2 linked regions of the Homo sapiens genome follow. The protein of the gene in region 2 purifies or fractionates together with the protein of the main gene of each other region. This does not show direct contact. Each region holds a gene or a part of one and is shown on either strand. Other genes may lie near its edges.

Region 1 (2,574 bases), on a different chromosome or scaffold from region 2:
TAGTTCTTCCTCTTTTGAAGGTTACACTTGTAAATCTACACTCTTGGTTCAATTTATCACTGTCCAAATAAGGTGGAGAAGCTGTTCAAACTGATCCACAGAATGCAGTATGCCTGGAAGAGGCAAAACAAGTATTTTCAAGACATAACAGGCCATTACATCTTAATATGCTGCCCCAAATTCAAATATATTGTAGACAATAACAAATACAGATGAAGACATTTTGTGTAAAGCTCAAACCTTTAGCATCTAACAAGTGCACTCTAGTTCCAGCATCTATGAAAAGATGACATCCTCCATTAACAAATACAACATGAGTAAGTGCTCCTCCTCTCCCGCTTCCATAAAGCTCTCTGGACCTGTGATTACATAATGCAGATCGTAGGAAAAGCTGCTTCCTCAGTCTCATTAGTCCAACCAGCTCCAGCTCACCTTCACTGGAAATTGTCATGATGCACATTACCAACACAGTGTTCAGGAAAAATGAGTAAACATACCTTTTATTCACACTTTACAAAAAAAAACCAATAACAAAACCCCATAAAAAGTTATGCACTGGTTCTACATCAATACCAGCTTTCCAATGTACTGATTATAAACTGGATGTGTTTGGTGTCAGCACAACTTAAACAAAAAGCAAAAAACAAAACCAAAACATCACAATGAAATCCTAGAAAAAACAAAAAACAAAAAACCCTCAAAGGAAAAAACAGGTCCAAGACCAAGATTCAACATCAAAACCTTTTGGAGAATTTTCTAAAAGGAGAAAAAAAAAAAACATAAGAATCATTTCCAAAATGACTCATTTTCTGTATAAAAATTGTTAGTAAGAGTGAGTATTTTTTTTCCTAATGCTCACATGGCGTCCTTTTGCTCCCCTGCCTGCAGTTGAAACAAAAGCAGTTTGACCAAGCTCCCTCTGCATTCATTTGACTTTTGAGAGAAGAATGAATAAATGAGAGCAGACCATGTACATGTTCACTTTGCAAAGTTAAAGCTGGTTTTCATCTCTAAATGGCACTATGGGCAAAATAGACGGTATGATGTAATTTTTATCTTGCTTGACATACTAAAATGACTTAGTCATTTTAAAAATGATCTGAAGAATTGTCTTAGGGACCTGTTTTGAAAATACATCTAATTCATACTGCTTCATAAATGGAAAATTACTTCTTCTTAAAAAAGGAATGATTAAAACAACAACAACAACAACAACAAAAAGACTAAGGAAAAGACACTGACGACAAAAAGAATTCACATGATAGTAGTATTCTGGGTGACAAGCAGCACACTGCAATGACACCGAGAAGCAGTGCTTGGATCTGGTGAGCAAAGATCCAGGGACTCACCCTATAACATGTTCCAAAATGTGATATTCAATGCTTCACAATGGGAAAAAGCCACAGCTCATACAAAAGCATTTTCATAAAATTCTCACAAATGTTAAACAGTATTTTAAAAATATAAAAGAGGATGCACAGATTTTCTCTGCATGCACAGGCAGTGCTTGGTGAGAACAAATTTAGGCAGGCACAGTGGAGATAGGACAGGAAGTGTCTCAAAAAGAGTTAAGAAGCTGGACCTAAGCAGCTGTAGGTTTTTAACTTTAAAAAGTTAAAGATTTAAAAATATCAGAATGTACATATATCAACCATTACATTCAGTCCATAAATGTCTACAGATCATCACTGTTCAGCTTATCTGTCCTAGTAGATAGTTTTCATAAAAATTCATGAATAAGTTGCCTCTGGTCTGAAAACATCCTAAGGTTGAAGCAGATTTATATGTAAAGAACCATGTTCTCAATTTAAAAAGAAAGTAGTACAAAAGGGCTAACAAAACCCTAAGAGTGCAAATCATGAGCAGAGAAAGTCTGTTGCAGCTTCTTTTACAAGCTGGCCTTTATAACACATGAAACAGGTTTAAAAAAAAATTTAGCCTCAGTTTACAATACAATCATTTCCAAATGATTTTAGTACAAAATTTCATAAATCAGGTCTTCTGTGGATCATATACAATCATAAAGGCTAAATTCAGATTCTGTACTTTACAAACAAGTCTGAAAAAGGAGGGAGTAAAGTATGGAAGAATGATCTCTGGATGTTGCTACTGGCCTCAAAAAAGCAGTGCTACAGATTTCTGTGTGAAGAGAATACGCTGTTCACACATTTTCCTATTTCCAGGCATGAAAATATTCTATTGGGTAGAAGAAATAGGAAAATCTCTTATGACAAATGAAAGACAGGTGCAAACACACCAATCCCTGTCTAGCAGTATAAAGCATATTGGGCTCAGAATTTGTCTGTTGCTAGCACCTGGCTTTCATACTATATCCTTATCAAATAATCAGATTGAAAGTCCAAATCATTCTTAAGCAAGCAAAAATCCTCAGTGGCCATACCTCACTCCCCTATGTTCAGATTTTCACAAGTTTACAAGTGAATCAAGGCTGTCCTCTGAAGGTGCTTGACTACCTCCTGCCAGGAAGGTGGATGCCGTTGACTTGGGGCAGGAAAGGCAGTAAGAGCTCCAGTTGTGCAAAAAGTGAGAAGTGGTCAGAGGGGATGAGGGGGT
Region 2 (3,834 bases):
TTTTGAAAGGCTTAAGATTCTTCTCTCTAGTTTTTTTTTTAAGTACCAGAAACTCAAGGAAAAACAAAAAGTTATTTCAAAGTTATAATCCACATATGAAGCAAACTAAAATAGACACAATTTTGAGCAACTGGTGGCATTCAGGAAAGGGTTACCTATTTGAACATCTCTTGTGAGTAGCATGGGATCATGACACTGGAAATACAGGGAAGGAAACAGCTCTGCAGTGAACAATATTTCCCCACTCATAATAGTGCAAAATTCCCTATTCACAATAATGCAAAAACTCAATGTTAATTTTCAACAATTGGCATCAACCTGCAAATAGAGCATGGAAAACTTAATTTGATGACAGAATGGATAAAAATGTGATCAATCTTGACAGTGTCAAAGTAAAACTATAGCCAGCTCAAGTTGGGAGTCAGAAAGGAGAAGAGAATGGAGAGGAAAAAAAAGGTAGGGAATGGGTGGAGAACAGGTGATTACTACTTTTCATTATAAATCCTTTGGTTCCTCAGGCATTATTTTAAATAAAAATATTTTTAAATTTTTTTAGGAGAAAGTTGTTACCATTGGCTAATGCTACAAAGGGGTCAAGTGAGAAGGAGTTAGATTTGGCCTGTAAGATCATGGTGACAATGGAAAGGACCATTTCAGCGGCCTATAGGAATGGAAATCAGAGTACAGTGGGCTGAGGAATGAATGGGAAATAAAGACCTGAAGAGAACAATTCTACCTGCAGAATGCTAAGGACAGGAGAGGAGAGGAGAAAGGTTGCTAATAGAAGGGATTAAAAGTAAACAGAAGGTTGCTGCTGCTATTTTTATTTATATAGAAAAGACTTGGGCATAGTTTTTGATTGAGGTGAAAAGGTGATGAAATCCAGAAAACAGGATGAGGAATCAAACTTGGACAAAAGAAAGGGTATCTATCATTTCGAAATAAGAAGAAATGAGGTAGGGGTAGACTAGAGGAGGAGGCAAAAAACTGGCAGGATCACAGAGAGCTTCTGTCCTCTAAAGTGATCAAAGCAAGAGCTAGAAAAGCCTACAGAGCTGGCGATTTCAGAGAGCAGAACAAGAAAACCAACAAGGATTGATTATTGGGTAAATGGACTAAGCTGACAGACGAGTAGTATGGTTGAAAGCATATTTACATTTGAAAATCATTTTATTTTGCCTCATTTGTTGGTTGAATTATTCTTCATGAGAATCTTTTAAGGTAACCTGGTATCTGGATCTAAAAGACTATCTCGGGAGAACAATCAAGGAAAACAAAGTTTTGCTTATTTACACAAGGTCCTACAGCAAGTTACTATCAAGGTAGTAACAACAGTAAGACAGCTGTGTGCCATCTCATTCTGCTCATTTGAGACCCAAACACTTCTAAACAATAGCAACCTATTTCAATCAACCAGCATTTATTAAGATAACATATGCAAGTCTCACAATCCTGCAGAGGAAGTACAATGACCCCTACTTTACAGATATTGAATAAAGAGAGATTCAGTGTCTTGCCTAAAGTAACTGAGCCAAGATCCTAGCCCAAAGTTGTTAGATTCCAAAGCATATATGCCACGTGTAAAGCACATGCATTAAAACCAAATCTGAAGTGTGTTTTGGCCATTCTCAGTCCACTGCAAGTCCATTTGGAAAAAAATCAGATAGGAGAATTTTGAATACATGAAAATTAGCTGAGATTTAATTCAGTGATCCAAACCTGGGTGATCAATATTAAAATGTAAGTGCCAAAATCAGTGCTTTAAATTTTGGGAAAAATCTAATAGCATTCTCTTCATTATGAATTATGAATTAAGACCACTACACTCAGCATCCTAATTCTAAAACTATTCTTTCACCTGTGTTCTCTTTCTCTAATCAATCTAATTCATGGTAGGTTGCTATCTGGCCACTAACTATTACAAATAGAAAGCCATGTTTATGACAAATTTTATAAATGTACTTTGAGTAAGTAGATCTTTTTAAATATATACATGCAAATTAGCAAATAAACTGGTGACTTTAAACTGTGGATGCCTTAGCAAAATTCATCCGTGCTTTTTGCTTTTCTTTATTTCTGTTAATAACCTTCCCTGCTAAAGCAATTCTTCCTCTGGGCATTTATGCTGATGAAACAGTGGTATGTTACCCCATGCCAGCCTTGCCCTAAGTAACCTGAAGCCTGCAGATAGACTTTAATAAAATGAAAATATGTTTCTCCTCCAAAGATTGGATTTTAAATTAAGTTATATCCAAAGCCCTAATTTTAAGAATATAATATTTGATGGCTTCATTAAAAATAAAACAATAGCTAATGATGTTTTGAAGCCAACTGACCAGTTTTTAAAAGTCCTTGGAATAAAACTAAATCTGTGATGACTACAGATACACATGGGTCACTGCTAAGGTAGCCCCAGCTTGGGAACACTGGGATGTCAGGAAAAAATGCTAGTGAGCTTAAAGGGAAGTATTTATTGGGCAGTTTCCACTGCGTGTCCTGGATTACTGGCACATGATACAGTCCGGCTCTAGTGTAACCACCATTGTTTACAATACCCGAGGCAATTTGAAACTCCACGATTTCAACAATGGCATCAACTGACTAAAAAGTTTTGAGTAATGTAATCACAGTGATTTATCACTTCACACAAATGTGTTTCTAGCTCATAAACAGGCTACCCGTGACCCATTTTATCTCACACATAACTGAAATAATGAAGGTACAGCTTGGTAATGCTCTGTATTAAAAATTAGTAAGTTTTTAGTCTTGAAATAAAATTTTACATCCATCATCTCATTTAATCCTAAACCACTTTATTAGTCTACAATCATTGGCATTCTACTTATTCCTGTGCTTGGTAAGCCTTACTCATTGGTCTTATCCTTCTCTTTTTTGTGTGTTTTTTGTTGTTGTCTTTGTTTGCTGGAGTGCAGTGGCATGATTATAGCTCACTGCTGCCTCAATCTCCCAGGCTCAAGTGAGCCTCCTGTCTCAGCCTCACGAGTAGCTGGGACTACAAGTGTCTGCCACTATGCCCAGCTAATTTCCTTGTATTTTTGTAGAGACAGGGTCTTGTTATGCTGTCCATGCTGGTCTTGAACTCCTGAACGCAAACTATCTTCCCGCCTCAGCCTCCCAAAGTGCTAGAATTACAGGTGTGAGGCACCACACCTGGCCTGGTCTTAGCCTTGTCTTCAGTAATCTTTCTTTTATTACTGCTTATTCATGTACACCCTCTGATGCATCTTTTTGGCTAACATTTCTACGCTTTCCTTCTTTGGTAGCTCACCCACTTCTAGAGTTATGTTCACACTCTGTTTATTATTCTGATCTACACTTTGCACTATCCACTCTCATCTTGACCATTTCTATCTTATTGAAATCCAGATTTCACTTCTAAGATTACCTTTCTTCTATGTTACCCTAACATAATTGCTCTGTATTTTTACACATGAACTGCTTTGCCTTAGTTGTCTGTTAAAACCTTCTCTCTTTAAGAGTTACCAATAACATCAGTCTCATTCGAATCTTTGCTTCTGAAGTCTTAGCAATATACTTTATTATACCCAAACTTTTCATTTTCTGTAAGCTCCTACTTTCTGATTACTTGCTTGCCTCTTTTCTTTCCCATCTTTACCCTGGTTTTTAGCTGCTTAAATTGTCCCATTACATCCTGTTCTCCTTCAACCTTTCCACTTAAAAATTCTGATTTTTGAGAAATTTACCTAAATTGTATTTCCCTTTTCTTATATTTTCTAATTTATTTATTCACTGTATCACTGAGGAAACTGAAATTAAGTATAATTACTAATCTTGTCAACTACATAGTTTAGA

The links.
Region 1: the proteins of ZMAT3 (region 2) and CNOT6 purify together in Homo sapiens (affinity purification with western blotting, with the first as the bait; one study listed by BioGRID). This does not show direct contact.

The regions. Positions count from the first base shown.
Region 1 is NC_000005.10:180,574,097-180,576,670, reverse strand, and holds part of CNOT6 (CCR4-NOT transcription complex subunit 6), read right to left. Parts: coding exon 2,471-2,574; 3' UTR 1-2,470. UniProt on the Homo sapiens protein: Poly(A) nuclease with 3'-5' RNase activity.
Region 2 is NC_000003.12:179,061,554-179,065,387, forward strand, and holds part of ZMAT3 (zinc finger matrin-type protein 3), read right to left. Parts: intron 1-3,834. UniProt on the Homo sapiens protein: Acts as a bona fide target gene of p53/TP53. May play a role in the TP53-dependent growth regulatory pathway. May contribute to TP53-mediated apoptosis by regulation of TP53 expression and translocation to the nucleus and nucleolus.